Linked DNA regions of Homo sapiens. The protein of the gene in region 1 interacts with the protein of each later gene in a pairwise test. Each region holds a gene or a part of one and is shown on either strand. Other genes may lie near its edges.

Region 1 (3,747 bases):
TTGCAATCAACATTTAAAAATGTGGATCTTTACATATTTTTGCCAGGATATCTGTAGGGTACATTTCTAGAAGTAGAATTGCTAGGTCAAGGAGTAGATAAAATACATTTAAACATTTTGATAGCTGTTACCAAGTTGCTCTTTGATGAAATTGTACCAATTCTCACTCCTACGAACAATGAGAGTGTTCCATTCTCTAAATCGTTTCAGATATTTGACAAGATAAAAATTAGCACCTGGTTTAATTTGCTTTTTTTTTTTTTTTTTTTTTTTTTTTTTTTGAGACGAAGTCTCGCTTTGTCAGCCAGGCTGGAGTGCAGTATCGCGATCTCAGTTCACGGCAACCTCCGCCTGCCAGGTTCAAGCGATTCTCCTGCTTCAGCCTCCTTAGAAGCTGGGATGTAATCCCAGCCTGTAGGTGCCCGCCACCACACCGAGCTAATTTTTGTATTTTTAGTAGACACAGGGTTTTGCCATGTTGGCCAGGCTGGTATCGAACTTCTGGCCTCAGCTGATCCAGGCACCTCGGCCTCCCAAACTGCTGGGATTACAGATGTGAGCCACTGTGTCTGGCCCAAACTATTTTAATGTAATGTAATGTAATTTTCTTGAGACGTAGTCTCGCTGGGTTACCCAGGCTGGAGTGCAGTGGTACGATTTCGGCTCACTGCAACCTCCTCCTCTCGGGTTAAAGTGATTCTCCTGCCTCAGCCTCCCGTGTAGCTGGGATTATATAGGCGTGTGCCACCACGCCTGGCTAATGTTTTTGTGTTTTTAGTAGAAACAGGGTTTCACCATGTTGGCCACGCTGGCCAAATTGTTCTTCTTTTTTTTTTTTTTTTTTTTTTTTGAGACGGAGTCTCGCTCTGTCGCCCAGGCTGGAGTGCAATGGTGCGATCTCGGCTCACTGCAAGCTCCGCCTCCCAGGTTCACGCCATTCTCCTGCCTCAGCCTCCGGAGTAGCTGGGACTACAGGCGTCCGCCACCACGCCCGGCTAATTTTTTGTATTTTTAGTAGAGACGGGATTTCACCGCGTTAGTCAGGATGGTCTCGATATCCTGACCTCGTGATCCGCCCGCCTCGGCCTCCCAAAGTGCTGGGATTACAGGCGTGAGTCACCGCGCTCGGCCTTTTTTTTTTTTTTTTTTTTTTTTTTTAATTGAGACGGAGTCTCGCTCTGTCGCCCAGGCTGGAGTGCAGTGGTGCAATCTCTGCTCACTGCAACCCCGCCTCCCGGGTTCCAGCGATTCTCCTGCCTCAGCCTCCCGGGTAGCTGGGATTACAGGCGCCCGCCACCACGCCCGGCTAATTTTTGTATTTTTAGTAGAGACGGAGTTTCGCTATGTTGGCCAGGCTGGTCTCGAACTCCTGGCCTGAGGTGATCCACCCGCCTCGACCTCCCAAAATGCTGGGATTACAGGCGTGAGCCACCTCCCCCAGCTCCTTGCTTTCTATTTCTACTGGGCAGTGCTGCTCAGTAACCATGCCAGTCCCGTCCCCGCCTCTATGCGCTGGGATTCCGCAGCCAGAATACTTACATCCCTGGGGCCCCAAGGGGCTCACTAAACCACGTGCCTTGTCCAGGTCGCGTTTTTTTGTTTTTGTTTGTTTGTTTTTTTCCTCCTGGTCTTGTCCTTTGTAAAGCCTTAGAACAGTCGTTAAACAACCCAGCAAATATGCAATTCGCGTTTTCAGTAAATTTATCCAAACCGCATTCCATTCCTTACCCTCCTGCTTCTGCGCAGACAAGCGCCCTTGATGACGTTTGTCCCACGTCGCTCTCCGTTCGCTCCCAGGCTTCTCTGCGCGTGCGCCTCCTCACACGCCTGCAGGTATGGCGTTCTGGTGTCAGCGTGACAGTTATGCCCGAGAGGTACGGCGTCACGGCGAGGCACTTGAGACTGCCGGGCCGGCAAGGCGGTTTGGGGAAGAGGGCGCCACGTGTAGGGAGTGCCAACATGGCATTCTGTCCTGGTGTGGAGAGGGCTAGGGCTAGGGCTGGGGTCGGGGCTTATTCTCTCATTCCTCTCTGTTCAGTTCACCACCACCGTGGTCTCCTGCTGTCCCGCGGAGCTGCAGACTGAAGGGAGCAACGGCAAGAAAGAAGTGCTGAGCGGTTTCCAAGTGGTGCTGGAAGACACAGTGCTTTTCCCTGAGGGCGGGGGACAGGTACCAAAACGATCTCTTCCCAGGAAGCCCCCAGTTTCTTTGTGCTCAGGCCGAAATGCTCTCCTGCCCCTTTTTTCTCAGCCATAATGAATTCAGATGAGCTTTAGTTTAATTCATTTTGTTATTCATTTAATGAGTATTTATCAGCAATTGCTTATCTAGACATAACATATGCTAGATATTATTCCAGGCTGTAAGGATAACCGGTGAACAACACAGTGCCTTTATATACGTGGAATGTTTATTGAAGACAACTGTGTGTGCTAGGTATAATAAGTAATAAACAAAAACCAAGTAAAGGGAAAGAGAGTGATGGGATGCTTGTCTAGATGAAGGGTAAGTTATTTCAGTAGAGACCTAAACGAAGTGAGGGGGTGAGTCTTTGCAATTATCTAGTGGTGCTGGGGGGCAGAGGGAGTATTCAGGCAGGTAGAATAGCAGGTGCAAAGGCCCCAAGGAAGGAATTAGCTTCGGGTTTTAGGGACTGAAAAAGATGTTCCTGAAGGAGTTCAGGTGAGATAGACGGGTTACAGTAGTACAGCAGAGAGCATATTTATCAGTGCTGTGATGAGGACTAGGTACAACATGAGCGCAAGTGAGGTACATTGTGAAGATGGAAGAGGAGGATAATAACACCAAAGGTGGGCATTATGAGAAAGGCTTTTCTTTCTTTTCTTTTCTTTCTTTCTTTCTTTTTTTTTTTGAGACAGAATCTCTCGCTGTCATCAGGCTGAAGTGCAGTGGCATGATCTCAGCTCTGCAACCTCCGCCTCCTGGGTTCAAGTGATTCTCCTGTCTCAGCCTCCCAAGTAGCCTGACCAACATGATGAAACCTTGTCTCTACTAAAAATATAAAAATTAACCAGGCATACTGGCAGGCCCCTGTAGTCCCAGCTACTCGGGAGGCTGAGGCATGAGAATCACTTGAACCGGGAGGCTGAAGTTGCAGTGAGCCAAGATTGTGCCACTGCACTTCAGCGTGGGGGACAGAACAAGACTCCGTCTCAAAAGAAAAAAAAAAGGTGTATTAAGGTGTGTGGGCAGCGAACCATGCAGGTTATTTTCTTTCTTTTTTATTTTTAAGAGACAGGATCTTGCTATGTCACCCAGGCTGGAGTGCAGTGGCCTGATCTAGCTCACTGCAGCCTCGAACTCCCAGGCTCAAGCAATCCTCCTGTTTTAGCCTCTCCAGTAGTGGGGACTACAGGCGCACAACCAACATGCTTGGCTGCTTTTTTGTAGAGATGAGGTCTCACTTTATTGCCCAGGCTGATCTTGAGCTCCTGGCCTCAAACAGTCCTCCCACCTTGGCCTCCCAAAGGCTGGGCCTACAGGTGTGAGCCACTGCCCTGGCCTCCACTCAGGTTCTTAAGCAAATAAGTGACATGAGAGAACATGTTCAGTAGACTTGGTATTGAGAGAGTTCCAATTTCATATCAGTCATTATTATGGTGATTTTCCCAGTATGAAGATTTCCCTGATCTGCTGAAGGAAAACCTGTGACCTCAAGTATCCATAGAAGGTCTCATTTTAGACAGCATTTCTTTCAGGAAGTCTTTTTTTGATTCCCCAAGACT
Region 2 (3,747 bases), on another chromosome or scaffold:
CATCTAGTGACAGCTTTCAAAACTGCTGAACGAGGTGTTCTCTGCCCCTGCTTTCAATTTGGTGGCTCCACAGCACTGGGCATTCTTGGCTTTGTGTGTCTTTCTGGCTTCTTGATGCCAGCAGCCCATTTTTCTTCCTTCTCTGCCCACTCCTCTCTTTTGTAGTCATTTTATTTTTACTTCTGGTTAGATTTGCAAGTTAATGAAGTGATTGATTAGGTTCTAATCTGAAGGGCCCCTCCTGCTGACACGAGTCCTCTGGGTTGTCAGATGCCACCACTTCCCTTCTCAGTCACCGCTGGTATCTACCCTCTAGTCTTAGCTCAATTCAAAGGCTTTAGTTGTCACAAGTGTGATATCCCAACAAGGGAAGCACCACCCTACGGTAGTGTCCTTCACCTTTCTGCAAATGGATTGGAGGCTGCAAAGCAGAAGACAAAAGCAAACAGACTCAGCAGGAACTCTCCCTTCCCTGATTCTCCTCTGTAGAAGTGCAAGCTCCGTGCTAAGAAAGTCAACATACCTCTCAGAGTATGGAGTGCTGCCACATGGAGGCTTCTTCTCCATGGCGAATGAGTCCTCAATGCTGCTGACGCTGCAGGGAGTTTGATAGGGGAGAGGAGGGCAGAGATGAGAGCCAAATCACTATCATAGTTAATTTTCTAATTAACCTTTGGCCACAAGCTGAGACATAACTACGATGCCAGTCGTCATTCATGACTTGGTGCCACAGGGCCCTTCTATGGGGGGGCAAAGGAGACCTTTCACAATGAGGGAGATGATCGGGGCTGGGTGGCTAGGATTCCTGAGGTTGTATATGCCAAGGGGACCCCACTGACCAGTGGGAAAACAGCAGAGCTTTCCTCCCCACCTATGATATAATGTGACAGTCACCAGGAGCCCACTCAGCAGAAATCAGATACTGGGAATGAGAAGAAAGAAGGGATCATTCTGGTATAATACCTGTGCTTGAGTTATGGGGTAGAATTAGGGGGTGCAGACGGGTTTGGAGTTTCTTTTTGGGGAGACAAAGGTGTTCCAGAATTGGATAATGATGTTTGCATAACTCTGTGAATGTACCAAAACCTCGGGACTGTACACTTTAAAGGGTGAATTATAACTCAATAAGCTGTTGAGAAAAACCACCCTAAGGGCCTACAGATGTGAAAGCAAAGCTCAGAGAGGTTGAACATCTTGTCCGAAGTGATCCTAACAGGGGGGCCTGAGCTGGGGCTTGAACTTGACCCCCACAGCCATGCTCATCATTCCACAGCACCAATAAAAGCCAGTCCAGAAGCCCCAGAGGCCCAATCCTGAAATAAGGCCAGGATGCTCCTCTCTGTTGCTAAAATCCTCCAGTGAGATGACATGTCATAAGAAACATTCTAAGGGACCTCACCTCAGTGTGGTAGGTAGCAATACACCGAGGTGACATGGAAGTACCCCTCCACATGGCATCACAAAGCAAGAAAATGAAGAGATGATCAATGAAAAGGGGAGGCCGAGGCAGGTGGATTGCTTGAGGTCAGGAATTCGAGACCAGCCTGGCCAACATGGTGAAACTTCATCTCTACTAAAATACAAAAACTAGCTGGGCATGGTGGTGGGCGCCTGTAATCCCAGCTACTAGGGAGGCTAAGGCAGGAGAATTGCCTGAACCCAGGAGGCAGAGGTTGTGGTGAGCTGAGATGGCGCCACTGCACTCCAGCCTGGGCAACAGAGCAAGACTCCATCTCAAAAAAAAATTAATTAAAATTAATTAACTAATTAATTAAAATTAAAAAGCAAAGCCACACATGTATCAGGAACTGCAGTCACATGTGTGTTCAAATGAGGCAGCCTGGCATGACAGAAAAGAACATGAGGGCAGAAGAGAAGAGCTCTGTGATCTGAAAAGAAATAGGATGAGCTAGTTGGTCCCTAGGGCTCTGCCAGCTCTGTCAAGAGGGGTGTTCTCAGCATTTTACAAAATAAAATAACAAAGACAAGCAGAACAGAATGGCAGTGAAAATGGTGTGCAGGATGAATTCACCGGAAGGGAGAACCCAAAGGTGCCCAGTTCAGTAGAAAATGCATCAATCCCATCAGAGGGCAACTACATCACTCATCCACTCGACAATTACCCCGAAGCTACTCTGAGCCAAGTCCTGGACAAGGAACTGGAAATGCAGGGATGAGAATATGGGAGCCGGCAGGAGAAGGCCGACATGGAAGGGTTTGGGACCCGCTCTTACTTGCTATAGCGTGCAGATACTGGCTTCCCAGAAGACACTTCACTAGCATTCACGTACTCCTTCACGAAGAGAATCCCTTTGCTGTAGAAGGAGCACAGAAGAAATCAGAGGTACACCAGAAGATTCCAGGGAACCAGGCCTGGCCCACAGGAGTGGTTCAGGGCTGGGGAGACCCAGCCTGGTTTGAAGGAAGTGAAAGAGCTCATGGGAAGGCCCAGGATAAAGGCACTGGCACTGCTGTGGACTCAGACTACAATCCCAGGCCATGAGCGTCTCTTGTTGTGTTTGGACTGAGGGCCCCAGAAAGGGGCTTCCTGCAACCAATGACAATGTGCTGTCCTCCTCCATGCAGACCTCGGTGACCCCATCTTCTCCCCAGGCTTCTATACTTCTACACTTCAGTCCTGTGGGCTTTCCACCCCTACTTTAGGGCTGCGTCGTCTTTCCCCTCTACCCACAACCAAGATATCCTCCAAGCCTTAATCCTACACTGTCAGTCTTTACCACTCAGCACTTCCCAGAAGGTACTCAGCTACTGTGCAATCTCCACCTCACATCTAACCTCTCCATTCTCACTCCTAGAGTCCAGAGGCCTAGAGGTTGCCTCATCCTGGACTGGCCTCTGCAGGACTGGAAACAAGGTCTGCATCATGCTGGGCTCAGGATGGCCCCAAATTTTCCCCCATTTCCATGCTGCACACTCCAGCCTGCTGACCTGATGTCTGCAGAGGCCCCCTTGGATATGCCCCCCTCCCGCCCCCAACACACACACCTCACTGAGCAGCCTTCCTGCAGTGACATCCCTTCCTGCACCCTGACAGGTGGCCAGGAATGCAGGTGAAGCAGTGGGCATGTGACAGAGACAGACAAACCTCATGTTGAAATGTGATTCCCAGTGTTGGAGGTGGGGCTTGGAGGGAGGTGACGGGATCATGGGGGGATCCCTCATGAACAGCTAGCACCATCCCCTTAGTGAAAAGTGAGTTCTCATTCAGTTAGTTCACACAAGATCTGGTTGTTTCAAAGTCCGGGCCCTCCCCTTCCTCACTCTTGTTCCTGCTCGTGCCATGTGATGGTCCTGCTCCCACTTCGGCTTCCACCATGATTATAAGCTTCCCGAGGCCTTTGCCAGAAGCCAAGCAGCTGCTGGTGCCATGCTTGTGCAGCCTGCCAAACTGTGAGCCAATTAAACCTCTTTCCTTTATAAATGTCCCAGCCTCAGGTATTCCTTTACAGTAACACAGGAATGCCCTCACAGGCCCGGCCTTCACGGACTGGAGCTGGCTTCCCAGGCATGGACCCATGAATGGCAGAGCCACATCCACTAGTGCACTAGGAAGTACCACTGCAGCCTCTTACAGAGATAGGAAAAAGGAGGTGTGGGAATGTCTAGGCCCGGTAGATGGGAGTTTATATTAGGGGACTAACACTGTCCTGTGTGGCCCCTTGGCTAATGGCCTGCTAGAAACTGGGGAAGGCACTAAATGGGAAGCAACATGGAACAAAAGCCAAG
Region 3 (3,747 bases), on another chromosome or scaffold:
CATCCCCCTTCCTTCTCCACCTCAAACCAGGTCTCACGCCCAACGCTCTTTTGCCGAAAACCAGACACATGCCCAAAGGCCTTCCAAAGTCTTTCCCTTGCAGGAGGTTGCAAGGACTGAAGGCATAATCTGAATTCAAGTTCCCTAGCTGACTTCTCCCATACTGAAAAGAGACTTTGCTCCTTTTCAATGGATCCTACCTCCTTCCTCAAGGAATGTCTGTACTTCCCTAAATCTTATGACCTTACCTGGCATGACATATATGTCATCCTCTCCTCTACCCTCACCCTGGAGGACAGGGAACACATATTTACGGGTGCCCAGGTCCATGAGAACACCCTCCACCAACAAGATGCTGCTCATAACCCAGTAGGGACCCTAGCTGTCCCCAGAACTGACCTCAATCGGAATTATCAGGCAACTTCTGTAGACAGGCAGAAACCAGGCCATATGATATCATGCCTTCTAGCTGGCATAAATAAAGTCGCCCCTGCTCTTTTCCTCTCCCGCCTTTTCAAAGGTCACAACTAAATATGCCACCTTAAGCCCTAATACCATTAAGGGCAAAATCTACCTCCATTTACACTTTATCTCCCAGTCAGCCCCAGACATTTGAAAAAAAACTTTAAAAAGTGGAGGATGGCCCTCAAACCTCCAAAGAGACTTAATCAAAGTGGCCTTTAAGGTCTATAAGATTAGAGAGGAAGAACTAAAAAACCCAAACCTAAAAAAGGGCCAGGCTAAATATCAAATGCTGATAGCTGCCACTCAACAGGGTTCCCAAGGCATACAGAATTCCTCAACTTGGCAACAGTCAACTCCAGGAGCCTGTTATAAGTGCATCCAACAGGGACACTGAGCAAAAGCCTGGCCTAATCCCGTGACACTCTGGAAGCCTTGCCCCATCTGTGATATCAAGCAACACTGGAAGTCAGACTGTGCTCAGTGAAACTCTTCATCTAGCTTCACCACCTGTACCTGAAGACAGGTGGGGCCTAGAGTCCACCACCCCTACTGCCATCACCACCTCGGAACCCAGGGTAATTCTGTCAGTCTCTAGTAAGTCCATGTCTTTCCTATTGGATACTCAATACGACAACTAGTTACTCGGTTTTACCAGAATATTCTAGACCCTTTTTCTGTTCTTCGATCTCTATTGTGAGAATCAATAAAATCCCCTCTAGGCACAGACTCGTCCTTTATTATGCAACCTATTCAACAGCCCCCTTCACCCACTGTTTCCTGGTTATCCCTCAGTCCCCTACCCCTATCTTGGGGTGGGACATATTAAGTAAATTCCAGGCCTCCATGCAATGCGGCTCCTACAATTCTACCCCTTTTATTTTACTCCGACACCCAAACGCTTCCCTCTCCCCCTACTCATCCTCATTATCCACCCTGTTACCTTCTGTTAATTCTAAAGCTTGGAATGTTTCTAAACCCACAATAGCCACACATCACATCCCAGTTAAAATAACCTTTCAAAACTCCTCCATTTTCTTTTTTCAGTCTCAATATCCCCTTAATCCAGCCGTGCTTAGGGGCCTCAAACCTATTATTTGTAAACTTTAACAAGCTCATATTCTCAAGCCTGTTAACTCTCCCCAGAACACCCCTATTCTGGCTTTCCAAAAGACAGACGGGACTTACCCCTTTGTCCAGGATCTCCAAGTTGTTGACCAGGCAGTGGTACCAATACATCTAGTGGTCCTCAACCAATATGCTCTACTCTCCCATATTCCTAAATCTACTACACACTCCTCTGTATTGGAACTGAAAGATGCCTATTTCACCATTCCCTTAAATCCGGCTTACAGAAGTCTTTTTGCTTTAACTTGGTCAAGTCCTAATACTCACATGTGCACCCAACTAGAGTGGACTGTACTCTTACAGGGGTTCCAGGATAGCCCCCACCTATTCAGACTTGCCCTCATCAAGGACCTAGGTGAACTTTCCCTTGCTGCTAGCACCCTCCTGCAACATGTCAAACTCCTTCTCTGTAGCCCCTTCCTTAACCTGTCCATCCAACACACCACTTAGGTTTTAAACTTCCTCCATAATAGAGGAAATCTCAGGTAGCCCAAACCAAAGTTTGGGCCTAGCCCACAATATTTCAGGTAGCCCAAACCAAAGTTACTTACCTTGGGTTTGTCCTAACCCCTAATTCTCGAGCCATCCCAACCCAATGAAAGGAGCTAATTTGGGACATGCCCTTTCCTCACACAAAAAAGTACCTTCTCTCCTTCTCGGGCCTTGTGGGTTACTTCTGGCTGTCAGTTCCCAATTTTGACTTGCTGGCCAAGCCACTAAACAGGGCCTCACATGGGCCCATCCTAAAACCCCTAAACCCAGCTTGCCCCATCAACTCCCACTTAAAAACTTAAAAATGCCCTTTTAATGGCCCTGGCACAGGGACTGCCCAACCTCACCAAGCCCGTTACTTTGTATGTACATTCTGACCAGGGCCTTGCCCTTGGACTACTCTGCCAAACATACGGCAACGCCACACAAGCCACTGCACTTCTCTCAAAACAACTGGACTCTGTTGTTTTGTGTGACCAAGGCTGGTCACTCTGACTAAAAATCTTGGCTGTGGCCACATCGCTGGCCTTAGAGGCACGGAAACTCCCTCTTTACCAACACATTACTATTGCATCTTCCCATTACCTACAGGACCTCATAAACCATCAATCCCTTCTATCCCTCCTACCATCCTGCTTATAACAGGTACATGCCTTATTCCTAGGTAGCCCTCTAATCCCCTTCCAGAGATATAAAACTCTCAACCCAGCCACCCTCCTCCCTGTAAACACTTCCGATTCTAGGCTCTCTCACTCCTGTCTGGACCTCTTAGACTCCCTCTCCTCCTCCTTCCAACACATTTCACATGCCCCTTTGCAGGGAACACATACACGGTTAGTTAATGGAAGCTCTTTTAGGGAGCCATGTCCAGCAGCTGGCTATTCCATCATTGCTGAAAATAAACTCCTAGAATCCAATGCTCTGCCACCCCATGCTACCTCTCAACAGCCTAAGCTAGTTGCCCTAACCAGGGCCCTCACCCTAGCAAAGGGAAAGAGGGTCAACATTTACACCCATTCCAAATATGCATACCATGTCCTACAGTCTCATGCCTTCATCTGGCAGGAACAGGGTTTCCTAACTACAAAAGGAACTCCCATAAGAAATGGCAAACTTATACATAAGCTGCTGGGGGTGGATAAACTACCACCAAAGGCCACCATTATCCATTGCAAGGGGTGCCGAAAGTCTAAAGATGCCATAACCGAGAGAAACCTTTCAACAAATTTGGCAGCCTGGCAGGCAGCCCTTAAAACCCCATCGTTATTGCTCATTTTTTCCTGTATATACCCAGAAGGAATGAACCCCACTTGCCCGGGCTGGTGCCATTCAGGAAAAAATTGTTTGATCTCAGTGATAAAGTGTCTTGTCCAAGTTTAAAAAACCTTCTGTACTTTCATATGTGCACAACCATTTCCATGCTGCTTACTGCCCCTACTCCAGCTTTTAGAAAATTATATACATTCTTCTGCCATGGCTGCCAATCTGAAATATATTACTAAGGCATGTTCCCTTTGCACTCAAACTTCCCCTCAGGAAGCTATCAAACCACCTCCTTTCCAACACACAAGGTCTGAGGACACTTACCAGGGCAGGACTAGCAAATCAACGTCACTCACATGTCCCCCAGAAAGTGATTCCTATACCTTCTGACAATAGTAGATA

What was found.
Region 2: the proteins of AARSD1 (region 1) and ZNF185 interact in binary tests that used the Homo sapiens proteins (3 or more experiments, as listed by UniProt).
Region 3: the proteins of AARSD1 (region 1) and SPANXN3 interact in binary tests that used the Homo sapiens proteins (3 or more experiments, as listed by UniProt).

The regions. Positions count from the first base shown.
Region 1 is NC_000017.11:42,962,529-42,966,275, reverse strand, and holds the start of AARSD1 (alanyl-tRNA editing protein Aarsd1), read left to right. Parts: upstream 1-1,821; 5' UTR 1,822-1,835; coding exon 1,836-1,874; intron 1,875-2,038; coding exon 2,039-2,170; intron 2,171-3,747. Other genes in the region: PTGES3L-AARSD1 protein, read left to right, coding at 2,039-2,170. UniProt on the Homo sapiens protein: Functions in trans to edit the amino acid moiety from incorrectly charged tRNA(Ala).
Region 2 is NC_000023.11:152,964,015-152,967,761, reverse strand, and holds part of ZNF185 (zinc finger protein 185), read right to left. Parts: intron 2,316-3,747; coding exon 2,235-2,315; intron 596-2,234; coding exon 524-595; intron 1-523. UniProt on the Homo sapiens protein: May be involved in the regulation of cellular proliferation and/or differentiation.
Region 3 is NC_000023.11:143,510,860-143,514,606, forward strand, and holds part of SPANXN3 (sperm protein associated with the nucleus on the X chromosome N3), read right to left. Parts: intron 1-3,747.